Linked DNA regions of Homo sapiens: region 1 is linked to region 2. The links come from fine-mapping of genetic effects on gene expression. A gene starts in region 2. The other region holds a variant in brackets. All regions are shown on one strand. Distances are from middle to middle.

Region 1 (10,031 bases), 47 kb after region 2:
GGTTTCACTGTTGGTCAGGCTGGTCTCAAACTCCTGACCTTGTGATCCGCCGGCCTTGGCCTCCCAAAGTGCTGGTATCACAGGCGTGAGCCACCGTGCCTGGCCGAGGATTATTTTGAAGTAGGTGCTCAGATGATGAGGGACCAAGGCTAACCTTAGCAAAATAAGGCTAAGAGGATGAACTCTTTAGATGAAGATGATATCAAACACTGAATTGAGGCTTTCACAGTTCCCCTTGCTGCAGATGTTAGGTACTTCTCCCCTGTGTAATTCACAATACATGGCACATAACAGGATGAGCTGCTTTGATGCATTTTTGGAATATCAAATACTTTCCTCAGAAGTTTTTTACTTCTTAGTGGCCTTGAGTCCCTGCTTTGACTGCTTTTTGGCAATTTGAGCGTAATTGAGGATGGATCTCACTGTTGGCATGTTAAATTTGAGGAGCTGGCCGAATGCCTGAGAGGATATTTCCAAGTGTCTCTGGAACTCAGAGAATCAGAGTCCAGAAAAGAGGCAAGTAACAGAGATGCAGGTTTGGGAGCCACCAGCAGACAGGTGGAGTGGACATCAGGCTCAGAGAGGGTTGTGTGGGGAAATCAGGGAAAGATGAAGAGGATGAGGAGAGAGAAAGGCCAAGGGGTCAGAAGACTGTGAGGTCACAGGTGATAGTTCATAGTGAGCTGTATATGAACTATGTACTTGGGCTTCCCACAAGTTTTGGAAACACATCACAAATCACCCAGCTCTTAGGAGGTGGAGCAGAGACTGGAACTCGAGTCTTCTGATTCTAAATTCTGTGTCTCTGACACTGTGTCACTTTGGGGCCCCAGGGGATGGAAGCCAGATGTCAGAACGCTCACAAGTAAATGCAGGGGCAGGAAGTGTAGATTGAGGAGGTATTTCATGTGGCAGAAGGTGACAAAAGATGGGTACTGGCAAAGGAAGGCAGGATGAAGGCTGTTTTACCCCAGAGAAACCTGAGCCAGCTCTGAGGCTGAGGAGAGGAGAGGGGTGCTGAGGGGTCATGACAGAAGCCTCTCAGTGAGGCCTGGAGTAGGCACAGAAGTTGGGCACTCAGGAAAGGAATTGGGTCCTAGAACATGAGAAGGCATCCTTTTTCTTCTGAGATCAAGGAGAGAAAAGGAGATACTGGAGCTTCCAGTGGAGAGGAGGGAAGTTGGAGGAGTTCTTGGTGAAAGGGCCTAAGAGTGAGGCCACACTAAGGAGGAGGCTGCAAAGACCTGTGAGGCCTGGGCTGGACTAAAAGCCTGCTGAACAGCCCCAGGGCCTGGCCAAGACTAGGGCAGAAGCAGGATGGGCTAGATCTGCACCTTGGAGGAGCTGGGAGTCTGGGCTGGAGGCAGCAGATGGAAGTGGGCCTTGCCAGGGCTGGGAGATGGTTGTGGGGGTGCCAGATCCTGGGGACAGTAGCCTCAGATGGCCAGCCATGGGCAGACAAAGCTGGGCATTCAGGAGAACCAGGCCTGGAGAATGAGGAAGGGTTTGCACATTGCAGGGTGGGCACGCCTTTTTTCCCTCATTGCTTTTCCTTGTAGACTTTTTACTTGTTTATTTTTGAGACATGTTCTCGCTCGGTTGTCTAGGCTGGAGTGCAATGGCGTGATCTCTGCTCACTGCAGCCTCTGCCTCCTGGACTCAAGCAATCCTCCCACCTCAGCTCCCAGAGTAGCTGGGATTACAGGCATGTGCTACCACACCCAGTTAATTTTTAAAATATTTTTTGTAGAGATGGGGTTTTGCCATGTTGCCCAGGCTGGTCTCGAACTCCTGAGCTCAAGCAATCTAACCGCTTTGGCCTCCCAAAGTTGGATTACAGGCATGAGCTCGGCCTTCCTTTTAAACTTAAAATGTAAACTTACAGAACAGCTGCAATAATAGTATTCTTCACACAGATTCCCCAAAATGTTAACATCACGGTGTTTGTGTCATTACGCTTTTCATCTTTATGTTTCTTCATCTCTGTCTCTACACACACACACACACACACACACACACACACACACACACACGCTATTTGACATTTTTCTTTCTCCTGAACCATTTGAGAATAAACTGAAATATGATGACCACTTACCTTTAAACACTTCAGTGTCTATTCAAGGTCATTCTCTCACCTATCTAGAGCACAACAATCAAAATCGAGAAACCAGCACAGATCTGACAATGTTGTCTAATCTGCAGACTTTATTATTCAGATTTCACCAAGTGTCTTGATTGCATCCTCTACAGCAAAGGAGACTTTTGCAGCATTAACTGCCACAGGCCCACCCCCAACCACCACTTCTTTTTTAAGACAGAGTCTCACTCTGTCACCCAGGCTGGAGTACAGTGGCGCTATCTTGGCTCACTGCAACCTCTACCTCCTAGGTTCAAGCGACCCTCCTGCATCAGCCTCCTGAGTAGCTGGGATTACAGGTGTGTGCCACCATGCCCGGCTAACTTTTGTAATTTTAGTAGAGATGGGGTTTCACCATATTGGCCAGGCTCGTCTCAAACTCCTGACCTCAGGTGATCTGCCCACCTTGGCCTCGAAAAGTGTTGGGATTACAGATGTGAGCCACCGCGCCCAGCTACCCCACTCTCTTTAATCTGGAGCCATCCCTGGGTCTCTCTTTGTCTTTCACATGAGTGACATTTTGAAATATGAAGGCCGATTATTTTGTAGTTTGTCCCCATTTGTGTTTGCCGGGAGTGCTTCCTGACCACAATCTGAAAACTCCTCACGTCCTGGCTGGCTCAACTTCCCGTAGTGAGTGAGACGTTGCCTGTTGTGCCTGATGCTGAGAAGAGGACGAGGAGATGGTTGAAGGTCCCAGGGTCAGGGACAGGCTGGCAGGAGAGCTTGGGGATGGTCAAAAGGGGATTGCGATGGATGGAGACTGCATATGTGCTTCCTGGGCCCTCCTGCTTTGAGCTGCTTAGAAGCTGCAGTCTTCTTTGCCTTTCCTGCCCATCAGGCATTAAACTGAACTAGAGGGAACAAGACAAGATGACAGTTAGGAGAAACTGGTGTCCAGGATATGCCATCCTAGCGGGTGCTGACACTGAGATTCCCAGGCCAGGCACCCCGTGCTGCAAATGCTTTGCAGCTTGACACTCTGGGCCAAGTATCCAGCTGGCTTGCTTTGAAGCCTCCAGTGATGTTTTTTGGATTTGTGTGGCTGAAAGGAAGTTTGTGCATCTTGCACAGTCTAAAGAGATTGCCTAATTCTGGCTCTGGGCAGAAGGCCCACACCTGCCGTTTATTCTGGGGATTTTTGTCTTATGTAAGGTAGAAAATCAATTCCTTGTGTTAGTATTGGGTTCCAGGAAGCGGAGTTCTCAGCCTCAGGGCTTATCAATCAAATCAGCTGCCCTCCATGATTTGTAGTTCCTCTTCTGGCACGCCCAGAGGTTGGGAAGCTGCGTTAGGCACAGTTGCTGTGCCCTGTGGAGTCTGCACTCACCTAGTGCTCCCTGGGGGCCTCATGAGCCCCTGGAAGATTGATATGTTAAAGGACTGGAGCCTTGAGGCCCTGCGTGTGGCTCACGCCTGTAATCCCAGCACTTTGGGAGGCAGAGGCAGACGGATCATTTGAGGTCAGGGGTTTGAAACCAACCTGGCCAACACGGTGAAACCTCGTCTCTACTAAAAATACAAAAATTAGCCGGGCATGGTGATGGGCACCTGTAATCCCAGCTACTTGGGAGGCTGAGGCAGGAGAATTGCTTGAGCCCGGGAGGCAGAGGTTGCAGTGAGCAGAGATTGTGCCGCTGCACTCCAGTCTGGATGACAGAGTAAGACTCTGTTTCAAACAAACAAACAAACAAACAAACAAACAAAAAACTGGAGCCTTGAAACATTCCAAACCTTCACTGCCCAGTGTTCCTGGGACAAGTTACTTCACTTCTGTGGGTCATGCCCTCCTGGAGGGCAGGCACTTGCACCTTACAGAGCTGCCTGAGCAGTAAGGAAGGTATTGTGTGCAGGCCACTTGTGGATGTGTTTGGTACATCCATGCTCAAATATGTTGCTGCTGTTATTGATGTTATTCATGAATATGGTTGAGCTTTCTCCATAAATCTCCTGGCTGGCTCCATATTCTATAAGACTCTACTGGTTTCAGCTAATGTTGGGTGGAGAGAACCTGCAAATAAAACACAGATGTACTTGGATGAGGGAGTTGAAACCCCCAAATGCAATGATCTTCAAGGGAACAGGATGCCTAGGAACATAGTGGTTGGAAAGCATATCAGCTGGTGATGAATAAGCAGGTCTGAGGCAGTCATAACCAGGGTCACTGGTGTTTGAACCCACTCATTTATATCCTGAAACAATAGGGGAAGGACTTACACACATGGCCTTCTGTGGGGTGGCTTCTGCCCTTCATGCCCTGTCTCTCAGCCAACAGCTGAGTATGAGAAGCCTCCTCCTAGACTCCCAGCTGCCCCTGACCCCTGGCCAGGGCCAGCTGTTGTGCCAACAAAGCCTCCAGTCAGGGGCTCTGGTCCCAGCTGCTGTGGGGAACAGGTTTGACCTTTCCAAGCGCCCATAGGTCACTTGTGGTCTTTCTGTGGAGACAGCCAACAGCCCATCTGTTCTTGCTTCTCATCTCACTCAGAAAATCCTAGCGCTCCCCCTGCTCCACTGGAACCCCTCATTTCCTGGGGATTCTATTTCTGCCTCCCCTGAACCTTCCAGAAGGGCCTTCTGGCTCAGAACCAGACCCCTGCCTGGTTACTCCGTCTGCCCTTCTGCCTGATTAGAGCAAGGGTCTCGCACAGGCTGGACAATGCCCAAGTCTGTGCTGAGCACAAAACAAGGCCATGTGATGGAGGGGCAGGGTTTCTGGATGCTGTCATTAATGATAACAGCCTGAACTATATCCATGACCTTTAAAAACATCTTTAACTGAAGGAAGTTAAAATACAGAAAGAGGGAAGATTAGGACAAACCTTATGGTTGGATTAGATTTAGAGATATTGGTAGGAGCTCATGATTTCATTACATGCACACACACACACAGAGATTGATATAGAAATTTGGCTGGGCGCAGTGGCTCACGCCTGCAATCCCAGCACTTTGGGAGGCCGAGGTGGGCAGATGACTTGAAGTCAGGAGTTCAAGACCAGCTTGGCCAACATGGCAAAATCCAGTCTCTACTAAAAATACAAAAAGAATTAGCTGGGTGTCATGGCGCATGCCTGTAATCCCAGCTACTCGGGAGGCTGAGGCAGGAGAATTACTTGAACCCAGGAAGCAGAGGTTGCAGTGAGCTGAGATCGCGCCACTGCACTCCAGCCTGGGCAACAGAGTGACCTGTCTCAAAAAAAAAAATACACATATGCATATTTACACACAGATATGGGAGTACACACATAAGCGAATTCACACTCATGCAGACAGATATAGAAATACATACATATGCAAATTCATATGC[A/G]TACAGATATAGAAATACACACGGCCACATAGGTATGGGTGCGTGTATATTTGAACACATGTATGTGTGCTAGAAGCAATGATGGCCTCGGGGGGAACAAGCACAACTGGGACCCAGATCTTGGTTTGTTGATACCATGCTCTAAAAGGAACCAGAGCTCCTTGGAGAAATGACTGATTTTGGGTTAGAGAAGAGAAAACATAAATTGAGCCTGGAATATCTTGTGTCAGAAAGTAAGTCTTTAAAAAAAGGAGGGATGGCCGGGTGCAGTGGCTCATGCCTGTAATCCCAGCACTTTGGGAGGCCAAGGCGGGCGGATCACGAGGTCAGGAGATCAAGACCATCCTGGCTAATACGGTAAAACCCCGTCTCTACTAAAAATACAAAAAATTAGCTGGGCATAGTGGCGGACGCCTGTAGTCCCAGCTACTCAGGAGGCTGAGGCAGCAGAATGGCGTGAACCCGGGAGGCGGAGCTTGCAGTGAGCCGAGATTGTGCCACTGCACTCCAGCCTGGGCGACAGAGTGAGACTCTCTCAAAAAAACAAAACAAAACAAACAAAAAAACAAAAAAACGAGGGGACATGTCAAAGGGACACTCTTGCTGGCTAAATCTGTGACAATTTAGTCTTGAAATAAATAATGATAGCAACAGGCAAAGGGACACTCCTGCTGGCTAAATCTGGGACAATTTAATCATGAAATAAATAATAATAGCAAGAGAATATCAGCTACTGAATAAAATAAGGATTCATGTATACGTGCTGATATACATAAATAAATGAGAGCAAGAATCGTTCTTCCTTATAATAGAATGCCACATGATAAATATGGGAAAAATGATGGAATTTGAAACCAGTGGGTTAAAGTTTGCTGAGTAAAAATATATACATTGGCCAGGCGTGGTGGCTCACGCCTGTAATCCCAGCACTTTGGGAAGCCGAGGTGGGTGGATCACGAGGTCAGGAGTTTGAGACCAACCTGACCAACATGGTGAAACCCCATCTCTACTAAAAATACAAAAAAATTAGCTTGGCATGGTGGCGCGTGCCTGTAATCCCAGCTACTCGGGAGGCTGAGGCAGGAGAATCGCTTGAACCTGGGAGGCAGAGGTTGCAGTGAGCTGAGATTGTGCAACTGCACTCCAGCCTGGGCGACAGAGTGAGACTCTGTCTCAAAAAAAAAAAAAATTACATAGTCTCCCCAGAAGTACATATTAATTACAGAAGGAAAATTAGCAACTCTACAGTGATAAACCTGGCATTCACTGCCTTATCCCAGTGATCACAGTTAACAGCAGCAGAAATGGGACACATGGGCATCATGAACCTCCTGATACGATCACCAAGAAGGACATAGCATCACTTCTTTAGTATTTCCACACAAAATGCAAAACCTGAGTCTCATCAGGAGGAAATAGCAGACAAACTCACATTGGGGGAAATTCCACAAAACCACAGGCTATGAAATAACTACAAAAATGTCAGTGTCATGAAAGAGAAAAACTGAAGAATGGTTTCAGATTAAAGGAAAATTAAGAGAAGTAATGACAGTATGTGTTTGGGCTCTTCTTTGCCATAACAAACATTAAGGTCTGTAAATCAGATAATAACACTGTGTTAATGTTAATTTCCTGATTTTGATAATTGTACTTTGGTTATGTAAGGTAATATCTTTGTTTTTAGGAAATACACACTGAAGTATTTAGAAATGAAAGAGACATAATTGCTGCAATTTACACTCATTCAGAAAAAGGCATACACATTCACAGAGAATGATAAAGCAAACGTGGGAAAGTATTAACAGTTGGAGAATGGTAAAGGGTGTTAAATTAAATATGCTGGCTGGGTGTGGTGGCTCACACCTGTACTCCCAGCACTTTGGGAGGCCGAGGTGGGAGGACCACTTGAGCTCAGGCCAGCCTGGGCAACAGAGTGAGACCTTGTCTCCAAAAAAATTTAAATAAGCAGGAGGCCATTAGCCTGAGGCTGTCTCTGTTTTTTGAATTCCGGCATAATACAATGCAACCTAACTTAGTATATAAAGAAACCAAAACTTAAGAGTATGTTTTTTGTAATAAATAGCCAGATTTCAGCCAATCACAACAGCCAAGCTTCAGCAAATGACAGGCCGCCAACTCATCATACCATGCCCAAATAAGGCAGATGCCTGGCTGTAGCCAATCAAGTGATTTCTTTATTTTTGTGTTCAGCCTATAAAAGCTCACTGTTCACTGCCAGGCAGAGGTCCCTGAACCTCTCCTTTTTTTTTTTTTTTTTTTTTTAAGATGGAGTCTGGCTTTGTCGCCCAGGCTGGAGTGCAGTGGCGTAATCTTGGCTCACTGCAAGCTCCGCCTCCCAGGTTCACTCCATTCTCCTGCCTTAGCCTCCCGAGTAGCTGCGTCTACAGGCGCCCACCACCATGCCTGGCTAATTTTTTGTGCTTTTAGTAGAGGCGGGGTTTCACCGTGTTAGCCAGGATGGCCTCTATCTCCTGACCTTGTGATGTGCCTGCCTCGGCTTCCCAAAGTGCTGAGATTACAGGCATGAGCCACCTCACCCGGCCCTGAACCTCTTCTGATTCTGAGTGCTAATTGATTCAGGAATTGTTATTTACTCAGATAAACTGTTAAACTTGTTTCTAAAGCTTTTTTTTTTAACAAGGATATACAGAAATTCTTTTTATTTTATTTATTTATTTATATATTTTTTTTGAGACGGAGTCTCACTCTGTTGCCCAGGCTGGAGTGCAGTGGTGTGATCTCGGCTCACTGCAACGTCTGCCTCCTGGGTTCAGGTGATTCTCCCGCCTCAGTCTTCCGAGTAGCTGGGATTACAGGCACGCGCCACCACGCCTAGCTAATTTTTGTGTTTGTAGTAGAGACAGAGTTTTGCCATGTTGGCCAGGCTGGTCTTGAACCCCTGAACTCAGGTGATCCTCCAGCCTCAGCCTTCCAAAGTGTTAGGATTATAGGCATGAGCCACCATGCCCAGCCATATACAGAAATTCTTTGTGCTGTTCTTGCAACTTTTCTCAAAGTCTGAAATTATGTAAAAATAAAAAGTAAAAAGAAACCTTCAACTTCTTGAAATGTTTTAAAAATGATTTAAAATAAATTTTGTTAGTGCTCTTTTTCCCATTGTATTCTTTTCGTTTTCACTGTCTAGTTTAGCATGAAATCCTTGTAATTGGTCCCTTGCCTATTTAGAATCTCTATGAAGATCTTCTAAGGGCCTCTGAGCCATGGTGAGTTCTCTCTGGACAGAGACACACAGCCCTCTGGTATACTCTTAAGCATTTACCATGTTCTGCCTTAGGATGCAGCTATTTCTGAAGTCTTCTTTTCCTGCATACTTGCAAACTCCTTAGGGTCAGGGACTATCTCTTATTTTTGTATCTTCGTTGTAAACACTCACTAAATATTTAATGGAATTAAATTGAAAAGTAGTACACAATTTTCAACTTTCCATTCATTAAACATGAAAATGAACGCACATTAGACAATCATAACTGAGTTTCAACAGAACATCCTGATGATGTCACTATGTTTCTTCTCCTATTTAAAAATGTGTTCTTGGCTGGGCGTGGTGGCTCACGCCTGTAATCTCAGCACTTTGGGAGGCTGAGGTGGGCAGGTCACGAGGTCAGGAGTTCGAGACCAGCCTGGTCGACATTGCAAAACCCCGTTTTTACTACAAATACAAAAATTAGCTGGGCATGGTGGTGGGCGCCTGTAATCCCAGCTACTCGGGAGGCTGAGGCAGGAGAATCGCTTGAACCTGGGAGGCAGAGGTTGCAGTGAGCCAAGATCGTGCCACTGCACTCCAGCCTGGGCAACAAAAGCAAGACTCCATCTCAAAAAAAATAAATAAATAAAAAATAAAAAATAAAAATGTGTTCTCCTTTGACAAATATGCTTTTATTGTAGAAAATTTTGAAATTTCAGAAAAGAAACAAAATAAGAACATGTAAATGATTCAGAATGCTGCGTGCTACACAGAGATATTAGTGTCTAGCCTTCTGAGTTTTTCCTATGCAAAATTTTAAATGCAAATTTACACATATATGGGTGTATAAATATATATATGTATATATATTTGTATTACATAACTAAGATCCAACCATGCATACTGATGTGTAACATGAAATTTTTATTTTATGCACAGGATTAGACTGATCAAAATCTTTGGTTCATGATACACTCTCATTGTTAATCCATTTATTCATTCATTCATTTGCTAATAATGTTTTCATAAAACTTCTTGAATTACCAGCCAACTCAAGAACTAGAACACTGACAATAATTCAAATCTACTATATGTCTTCCTTCCATATTTTATTCTTCCCCCACCTCTCAGGTGGCCAAAATCCTAAATTATTTTTAAAAAATCATTTAGTTTTATTTTTTAAACATTATAAAAAGAGAATCATATTATACATTGTATTAGTCAGCGTTCTCAAGAGAAGCAGAACCAATAGGATATCTATCCATCTGCCTTTTTTTTTTTTTTTTGAGATGGAGTCTCACTCTGTCACCCAGGCTGGAGTGCAATGGTGCAATCTTGGCTCACTGCAACGTCCACCTCCC
Region 2 (10,031 bases):
GTCCTTTCCAGCTTTGCCTCCAGCCTAAATGCAAAAAAAAATTTTTTTGAATGAAAAGAGTTGAAAATACTACTTCAAAAATATTCTGGAAACAGAATTTTTTCTAGTTTTACTTTAGGTAGTTAACAATATGTAGGTGATCCCCTTCCTCATTTGTAAATATACATGGGATTCTATCACCTTTTATAATTTCTATCAAAGAAATCAAACCTTAAACACTTATTTAAAATATTTTTCTTTTTTCTTGAGATGGAGTCTAGCTCTGTTGCCCAGGCTGGAGTGCAGTGGTGCGACCTTGACTCACTGCAAACTCCACCTCCTGGGCTCAAGCGATTCTCCTGCCTCAGCCTCCTGAGTAGCTGAGATTACAGGCGCACACCACCACACATGGCTAATTTTTGTATTTTTAGTAGAGGTGGGTTTCACTATGTTGGCCAAGCTGGTCTTGAACTCCTGACCTCAAGTGATCCGCCCGCCTAGGCCTCCCAAAGTGCTGGGATTACAGGCATAAGCCACAGTGCCAGGCTGAAAAATATGAGATTTTTAAAAACAAACATATTTATCAATTTCCAGATTAAAGAATCTTGCAAGTCAATATAACTTTTATGCATACATGAAATATTTCACAATTTTTATCAATGTCAATGTAACATATATTACTTCCACAGAAATATTTAGAACTTAGCTCTCAGAAAAATAAAGCATGTTCCAAGAAAAAAAAAAAAAACCTCAAAAAATTAAACACAGAATTGTCATATAGTCTAGCAATTCCACTTCTAGGTATACACCTAAAAATTGAAAGCAAGGATTCAAACAAATACATGTATACCCACGTTCACAGAAGCATTATTCAGAATAGCCAAAAGGTAGAAACAATCTTGAGTGTCCAATGATGGATGAACAAAATGATATACATATAATGGAATAGTATTCAGCTTTAAAAAGGAAATTCTGACACAAGCTACAACATGAATGGGCCTTGAGGACATTATGCTAAGGAAAATAAGCCAGTTACAAAAAAGACAAATACTGTATGATTCTACTTATGAGGTCCCTAAAATAGTAAAGTTCATGGTCAGAAAGCAGATTTGTGGTTGCCAGGGGTAGCTGCCTCCTGGGTTCAAGTGATTCTCCTGCCTCAGCCTCCTAAGTAGCTGGTAGTATAGGTGCGCGCCACCATGCCCTGCTAATTTTTGTATTTTTAGTACCAACAAGGTTTCTGCATGTTGGCCAGGCTGGTCTTGAACTCCTGACCTCAAGTGATCTGCCTGTCTCATCCTCCCAAAGTACTGGGATTACAGGCGTGAGCCACTGCGCCTGGCCGAGTTATTGTTGAATGGGTAGAGTTTCCACTTGGGAAGATGAAAAAGTTCTAGAGGCAGAAGGCAGTGATGGTTGCACACTATAAATGTACTTAATGCCACTGAACTGTACGCTTTAAAAAAACCTATTTCTGCATGAAAAAGGCAAAGTATGTGCCAATGTAATGAGCTTTTAAGTAAATATGGGGTATTATAGAGTATATGTGTACACATGTATTTCTAGTAGGTGACACAATAAATTAGAAATGTTATTTGCCTCTCGGGAGGAAATACTAAAGGTCTGACTTAAGAAAACTAATTTTCTCTCATATATTTTGCTTTTACCATTTAAACAGATTATTTCTTTACTGTTAAAAAAAGAAATCAGTTTACAAGATTGGCTGTTTGAGGGGCTATTCTTTCAAAATAGATGGTAAGCTTTGAAATGGCATATCCCCTTTGTAGCTAACCCTTTCCTTAAAAATTTTTTAAAGCTAAAAATTACCCCTGTATACTTCCTCTAATTGCACGTCTAAGTGGATTAAGTGCGTGTCACCCAAGATAATATGGAAGAAAAACAGTAAAACCCTGGCAGGTATCAGAAACAGGAAAAATAAAAATCTAAGAACTAATTCATATTCACTCTCTTATATTAGGTAATTCAACAAGAGACTGATTTAAGTTTACCAGTAAGAACTGAGACGCTCTCTATTTCTACCAGAATGCCTCATATTTTAATAATTTTTGACTATGTTGTTATATAAGAAAAATACAATTTTTGGATTTTTGAGGTCAGCTCCACTAACAAGACAGTCTTACTTACTTCTCAAATAAAAAACCCTTGTTACCTCCATTTGCCCTAATATATAACACTTAAAAACCTCTCAACTGGCATCTAAAATTATAATCACTGTCTTCCTATGACTGGATTGGAAAAAATAAGAAGTAGTCACTAATAAAAAGCCAACAACTACAAAATTCCCCAGGCTCCCCAGGTCATATAATAACTACTCTGCTTAAGCAATTTTATCCTCACTGTTTCAGATATGTCATATTTGGTGTTCTATTTGCTTTTTAAGGAAGTAGACATACAGTCAGGTTTTAAAAGCCTCAATCCATTAAATGACTATTTCCAACATTTAGAGATTCCTGATACATTTCTCATACTTAACAAAAGAAAACTTTTATGGTATCAAACTTATCTGAATATAAAACTATACAATAAATGGATAATTACTTTCTTTCCGATATCCCCTCAAACTGTATATATAGCCTCCCTACTTTGAACATTCATTTTAATATAATTGGTGCTTGAGAACCCAAATCTAAATTTTTTAATTCCAAGAACTGACTTCGTATTAACCTGAGTTAAGGTTGTTGGTTTTAAAAAATTACACACACACACACACACACACACACACACACACACACAGAGAGAGACAGAGAGAGAGAGAGAGGAGGAAGTAGGAGTTCGTTCATTTTACTTGGATAAACTTGCAAACTGGATACTAAGACACTTTCATGTCAGTTTTAACAGACATCTGCTTACTTCCTCTCAGGTTTAAAATCTATCAAGAACGACAACTCAATGTCTCCTGCATTTTTAGCTTATGTTAATACTTATGTATTTTTAGCTACTGGTAAGTGGATATAAAACATATAGCGTATCACTAGAGATTGAAAAATATCTGAAAAACTAGAATTGGCCGTGCGCGGTGGCTCACGCCTGTAATCCCAGCACTTTGTCAGGCCGAGGGGGGCGGATCACAAGGTCAAGAGATCGAGACCATCCTGGCCAACATGGTGAAACCCAATCTCTACTAAAAATACAAAAAATTAGCAGGGCGTGGTGGCGCACGCCTGTAGCTATTCGGGAGGCTGAGGCAGGAGCATCGCTTGAACCCGGGAGGCGGAGGTTGCAGTGAGTGAAGATCGCCCATTGCACTCCAGCCTGGCAACAGAGTGAGACTCCGTCTCAAAAAAAAAAACCACAAAAAACCACAAAAAACAAACAACAAAAAACCAAAAAAAAAAAAAACCACAAAAAACTAGAATCATGAAAATCATCTGTTTGAGCAAATCCTTTTACAGATTAGATGTAAGCTGTACCTCAGTTTGATAAAGTACTATAAAGTACTTTACAATAACAATAAACTATACGTGAGACGTTGGAAGCAATTATCCCTAAAGTCTATTCCAGCTCTAAGATTTGGGTTTTTTACAATAACAATAAACTATACGTTAGACGTTGGAAGCAATTATCCCTAAAGTCTATTCCAGCTCTAAGATTTGGGTATTTTACAATAACCAAACATTGTCCTCTCGACTGGCCAATCTGTTTACAGTTAGGTGTTATGTCTATTCAATACCATATCTGTCACATCAAGCACAAGACAAATCATCTAATACTATCTGCAGTATGATAAATGACAGCTTGGTGCTAACTTTTAAGCAGGTAGCTCCCGTTGAAGTAACCTTTCAACAGAATGCTTAAAGCACGAATACCGGCAAAAATAAGATTCCATAACAGTCTTATTATTTTTACACAATCTTTGATGCAACTCAGAGCGTATCCTTTAGCACCTTCTCTTTTCCCCTCAACTTTAAAATGGGGCTGAAGTTCTATTCACTTTCATTTTTTTAAAGCCACACTCTTCTTATCTAGATCTGAATTTCAGAATGAAAAGATGAATACTTTAAGACTGAAAATCCATAGCAAGGGCAAAGGAAAGTACTGTTGTATAATGAAAACCGCAAACTGCAAGGGGCTCAGAAGATAACGGGCGTTCATTTCTAACCTGTGCAATCACCTAGAACAAATCGTGTGGTTCTGGTCTATAAAACCATTCTTTGTCGCTCAAAAGACCACAAATACAAGCACCCTTTCGCAGAAACCCTCAAACTGACTGCCAGGGAGATTACGTAACCAAACATCGCCAAAGACTTATCTAACTTGTACAGCGGCAGCCTGTTTGACCTCATTCATACAGAGAAGCGATCACATTAAGATCCAGCACTTGTTTCTACATTTCCAAGCCGGATTCTGCCGTCCTCCTCCTTCTAAGACGGGCGGTGCAGCGTCACAAGCGTCGGGACAGATCTATCCGGCTCGGAACAGACTTCGCGCTCTACCCGGCCAGGCCCAGCTCTCACCCGGGGACCCGTGTCGGGCTCCGCAGCTGGGACATGGCGCCCCCCGGCGGGCGGCGAGGGGCTCGGCCGGACGAAGCCCAGACACCCGCAAACTCCCGACTCCACAGGTAGCGGCGCCGACGCCAGGGCCTCCGCGCTCTGCTCTCCCAGGCCCCGTGCCCCCGGCCCACCCGGCCGCCCTTACCATGTTCTCGGCGCCGACTCCGCCTCCGCTCGGCCGCGCGCCCTCCCGCTGCCGACCCGCGCCGCCGCCGCCGCTCTCGCAGCACCGACCGCCGCCGCCGGAGCCGGACAATACCCCGTGCCCGCCTCGCGCTGCTGTGGCCAATGCCCGCTTGTCTTGCTGGTTCGAACCCCAGCGGCTGTTCAATCGCGCGCCTCCTTCTAGCCAGACCCCGCCCCCCCGGCACCGCCTTCCTAACGGCTGTTTGTTTTTGCACACGGCACGCGGAGGCGGGGCCTCCAGCCCCAATAGTGACGCGCTCTCTGCCTTTCACCAGGCGCCCAAGCCTGACGAACAGAAAGGCAAACCAATGAGATTGGACGCCTCGCAGACGAAAGCCAATAAAAATATCGCCCGCGAGCAAGGGAGGCGGGCCACTGGGAAGGACAGCAAAATTAGCTAATAAGGTGAAGCGATTGCAGGCGCTGTGGCTTTCCCGCCCATTCGCGGCGTTGGTTTTCCCGCTTCTGAGACTTGTTTGGGGAGGTAAAGAGTGTTGGACGTGCTTCTCCTGGTGGGTTTTCACAGACTGTGAGGATTTATTCGTCTTAGAACGTGTGGATCAGGAGGGCGCTGGGTTTCAAGGTTAGGCAGGCCTCATGCTCAGCCGTATTCTGGCGGACTGACTACCCTGACGTCCTCTCAGCGCGGACCCTGACAAGGTCCGCGGCAGGCTGAGGCGGGAGAATCGCTTGAACCCCGGAGGCGGAGGTTGCAGTGAGCCGAGATCGCGCCACTGCACTCCAGCTGGGCGACGCATCGTCTCAAAACAAACAAACAAAAACAAAAGCTATCAATTGGCTACATATTGTTATTTGTATGACAAATTCTTTTTCCTTTTTTAGAGATGGAGTCCTGGGACTACAGGCGCGCGCCCCAATGCCCAGCTAACTTTTGTATTTTTAATAGAGACGGGGTTTCTCCGTGTTGGTCAGGCTGGTCTCGAACTCCTGACCTCAGGTGATCTGCCCCCCTTTGCCTCCCAAAGTACTGGGATTACAGGCGTGAGCCACCGCGCCCGGCATGTATTACAAATTCTAAGAACACGAAGATAATGGGGCCGGCTTGGTGGCGCGAACCTGTAGCCTCACCTACTGTCAAGACTGAGACAGGAGGATCTCTTGAGCCCAGGAGGTCGAGGCTGCAGTGAGTCATGATCGCACCACTGCACTCCAGCTTGGGAGACAGAATATACCCTGTCTAAAAAATAATAATAAAAAAAAAGGTAATGGATGAGGCCGATAGTCAGGAATGAAATGACTTTAAACAATTGGGTATGCATGGGATTGGGTATGTGTGTATGTGGGGGCAGAGGGTGGGCATAACCGAAGTCCCATACTCATGTCCCTCTAGGCCTAATACATTTTGCAGACCTCACAGAGCTCAGACTGTTGTGAGCCGTTTTTCTTTTCTCAACCTCTTCAGTGTGTTTATTTTGCTTACATCATTAGGTTAAAATTTGGAGGATAACTCCCAGCTAGAAAGGAAGAAAAGCTCTAAAGTGGAATCGCCTTCCCCCGGAAGCTGTTGTAAAAATTAAAGGATGTATGTGAGTGCACAGGCTCTCCAGCGATCGTTTTTCTTCCACAGTGTTAACACAATTTATTTATTTATTTACTTTTTGAGATGAAGTCTCACTCTGTTGCCCAGGCTGGATGGAGTGCAGTGGTGTGATCTGGGCTCACTGCAACCTCCGCCTCCTGAGTTCAAGCGATTCTCCTGCCTCAGCCTCCTGGGTAGCTGGGACTAAAGGCTCCCACCACCATTCCCCGCTAGTTTTTGTATTTTTAGTAGAAATAGGGTTTCACCATGTTGGCCAGGCTGGTCTTGAACTCCTGACCTCAAGTGATCCTCTCGCCTCAGCCTCCTAAAGTGCTGGGATTACAGGCGTGAGCCACCGCGCCTGGCCTGTTTCCACAATTAAAAAAGGCCCATCACCCTATCATGATCATCTCTATTACAGTCTGGACAATATGAGCTTTCTGGGAGAGCCAGCTTCATTTCATAACTGAAGAAATGGGCTTAGGTGAACTTAGTCATTTGCCTGAGACCGCATAGCCTGTAGATAACCAAGATACCAGCTCACATTTGTTCCAACTCATTCCAGCTTTAAATTCTTTCATTCTTTTCACAGTATGATGCATTGACTGTGCTAGAATGTGTTCTTGGTGTTGGTGAGTTAATAGTGAAAAAAACAAGTTTCTGCCTTAGTGGAGATTCTGTTGTCATAGGATTTTCCCAGGCTGGCACTTTAGAAATTTATATCCAGGCTGATGATAGCTGTTCCAAAGTTTGAATCAGGAGAAGCAACTTTGGGGAAGTGAGTCTTTAAAAAAAGGTAACTTAAATTCAAGAAGAGGAAGAGGGTGAGCTTCTAAGTAAGAATTTGGAAAAATACGGATGAAGGTACAGACAAGTGTGAGGAAGGGTGTCCAGTGAAATAGGAAGGAATGGAGCAATGTGCCCAGATTAATAGAAGCCTCAAAACTAGGTAGAAGAGTGGAGTTACTTCAGTAAAAATAGCCATTGTTAATTCCTGCTCCTCTGTGTTTCTGGCCTCAGTGGATGGCATTACCAATCTACCAAGGCATAAGCCTGTGAGTTATTCCTTTAACAAATCACTCAGTGCCTACTGTTTGCAGGCACTGTGCTAGGTACTGAGGATTTGGTGATTAGCAAAATAGACATTGTCCTTGCCCTTGTGGTCCTCTGCAGCGGGAGTCAGATGTTAAAGAAATAAACAAATACCATATGTGAATTATAATAAGTTCAAGTGTGCTGAAGGAAAAGAACAGGGTGCTTTAAGAGAGAAACAGGGAATGTAGTTTAGCTGGTGTGGGTGGTCCACAAAGAGCATGCAGGCTGGGCGTGGTGGCTCACTCCTGTAATCCCAGCAATTTGGGAGGCCAAGGTGGGTGGATCATCTGAGGTCAGGAGTTCGAGACCAGCCTGGCCAACATGGCAAAACCCTGTCTCTACTAAAAATGCAAAAATTAGCCAGGCGTGGTGGCGCATGCCTGTTATTCCCAGCTACTCAGGAGGCTGACGCAGGAAAATCACCTGGGCCCAGGAGAGCCTGGGAAGCGGAGGCTGCAGTGAGCTAAGATTGCGCCACTGCACTTCAGCCTGGGCGACAGAGCAAGACTCCACTCCATCTCAAAAAAAAAAAAAAAAAGAAGAGTTGCCCTTGTGAAGGGGGGCTGAAAGAAGTGTCCAATAATGTATGAGAAAGCACCTAGCACTGTACCTAGCACATAATATCCAATAAATGTTAACTTCCTTCCTTAACAGGAAAATCATTTTCTCACCACTCTCTACCCCTCAGCCTTCATGTCATTGATTCAGATTTTGATGAAAGTGGAGTTAGGTTGAAAAAGACTGGTTCTCATTGTAGATAATAGTAATCCTTTCACTGATTTATATATCATCACTAAATTATATCATCACTGTAAACACAGATGCCAGAAAAAAGTCTGCCTACTAACAGTTTTATAAACCAAGTGTGTTAGTAAAATTTAGTTTCTAGTGAACTAGGGTAACAAAAAAGGCAAAGATGAGCTCATGAAGAACACCAGTCTAACCAGAAAATGTTATGTATTAGCATCTATAAATGATAAACTACAAACATTGACAAATTATTCAACTTTGGGCTGGGGATGGTAGCTCATGCCTGTAATCCTAAAGCTTTGGGAGGCCAAGGCATGAGTCACCAGGGCAGGAGTTTGAGACCAGCCTGGGCAACATGGCAAGACTCCACTTCTACAAAAATTAAAAGAAAAAAATTAGCTGAGTGTGTGGCACATGCCTGTGATCCCAGCTAGTTGAGAGGCTGAGGTGGGTAGAGAACTTGAGCCCACGAGTTCAAGGCTGCAGTGAGCTATGTATGATTGTGTCACTGCTCACCAGACAGGCAACAGAACCAGACTGTATCTCTAAAAAAAAAATTATTCAATGTTGCTGGATTTAACCCAGTAATATATAGTATAATTGTTCTCAAAGTGTGATCCTTAGACCACCAGCATCAGCATCACTTGGAACTTGTTAGAAATGTATTCTCACCACCACCCCAGACCTGCTGAATCTGACACTGAGGGTGGGACCTACAAGCGCTCCAGGGGATTCTGGTGCATACTGAAATTTAAGAACCACTGGTATAGTATATGCTGCAGTGCACAGTCCAGAGCCCACGTATTCCTTATAAAACTGGAGCACTTGGCCAGGTGTGGTAGCTCATCCCTGTAATCTCAGAACTTTGGGAGGCTGAGGTGGGCAGATCACCTGAGGTCAGGAGTTCCAGACCAGCTTGGCCAACATGGTGAAACCCCATCTCTACTAAAACAAAAATTAGCTGGGTGTAGTGGCATGCGCTTGTAGTCCCAGCTACTCTGGGAGGCTGAGGCAGGAGAATCACTTGAACCCAGGAGGTGGAAGTTGCAATGAGCCGAGATGACGCCACTGCACTCCAGCCTGGGCAACAGAGCAAGACTCTGTCTCAAAAAAACAAAAACAAAAAAACTGGAGCACTTATTTAGCTCCTGGAAGTGTTGACTGATCATTACTCAGGGATCTCTACCCAGGAATTGGACTTGGCCAAAGGAAGCTGTATCGCCCAAGTTTACACTCCTTTTTAGGGGGCCTACCTCCAGTGACTGGTGGATGTAGGATATAGTGCCTAGCTCTTTTGCCTTAATTTGAGACAATTCTGAAGGGCCATTCCAGCTCCAGAGTTTCTTGTGTGATTAGTTTTGACTTGATCTAACTGCATTGAAGTTCAACTTCTGCGTAATCCTACTTCCTCTATTTTCTCCTAGTAATGTCCCCAAGAGCATTCCATACTATTACCTCTTGAAAGCAAATCCCATTTGTTTCCTGGGAAACCTGAACTAAGACAATGACTTTTCTCTGCAAAAATGTAGTCAATTTTTGAGTAGGCAAGATATTCACACGTACAAAATTTCAAAATGTACAAAGGGTATACAGTGAAAAGACTCCCCTGGTGCAGTGGCTCATGCCTGTAATCTCAGCACTTTAGAGGTTAAGGCAGGAGGATCGCTTGAGCCCAGGAGTTCGAGACCAGTGTGGGTGACATAGTGAGACCCACATCTCTGTGAAAAATAAAAAAAATAAGCCGGGCGCGGTGGCTCACGCCTGTAATCCCAGCACTTTGGGAGGCCGAAGCAGGCAGATCACGAGGTCAGGAGATCGAGACCATCCTGGCTAACGCGGTGAAACCCCGTCTCTACTAAAAATACAAAATATTAGCCGGGCGTAGTGGCGGGCGCCTGTAGTCCCAGCTACTCGGGAGGCTGAGGCAGGAGAATGGCATGAACCCGGGAGGCGGAGCCTGCAGTGAG

Alleles and levels. Alleles are on the strand shown, and positions count from the first base shown. SD is a standard deviation of normalised expression in the study named.
As copies of A replace G in region 1, the expression in thyroid of the gene that starts at base 4,757 in region 2 goes down (small effect, 0.17 SD a copy in GTEx).

Evidence for each region. PIP is the estimated chance that this variant, and not a neighbour inherited with it, causes the effect. A credible set is the group of variants that fine-mapping cannot tell apart.
Region 1: its variant is the best candidate, but not a certain one, in a credible set for the expression of H2AZ2 in thyroid (GTEx, PIP 0.61).

Annotation. Positions count from the first base shown.
Region 1 is chr7:44,890,659-44,900,689 of GRCh38, forward strand. No RefSeq gene overlaps it. Among named protein-coding and RNA genes, the nearest start is that of PURB, 10 kb to the left of the region's middle. The variant A/G (reference allele first, on the strand shown) is at 5,445.
Region 2 is chr7:44,843,331-44,853,361 of GRCh38, forward strand. H2AZ2 (H2A.Z variant histone 2) reads right to left here and starts at 4,757. Exons shown (of 5, transcript NM_012412.5): 1 at 4,639-4,757; 2 at 1-24. The coding sequence starts at 4,641. It overlaps H2AZ2-DT (H2AZ2 divergent transcript), which reads left to right and starts at 5,141. Exons shown (of 2, transcript NR_187581.1): 1 at 5,141-5,191; 2 at 6,129-6,235. RefSeq lists enhancers at 4,340-4,897, 4,898-5,456 and silencers at 4,383-4,772, 5,033-5,092.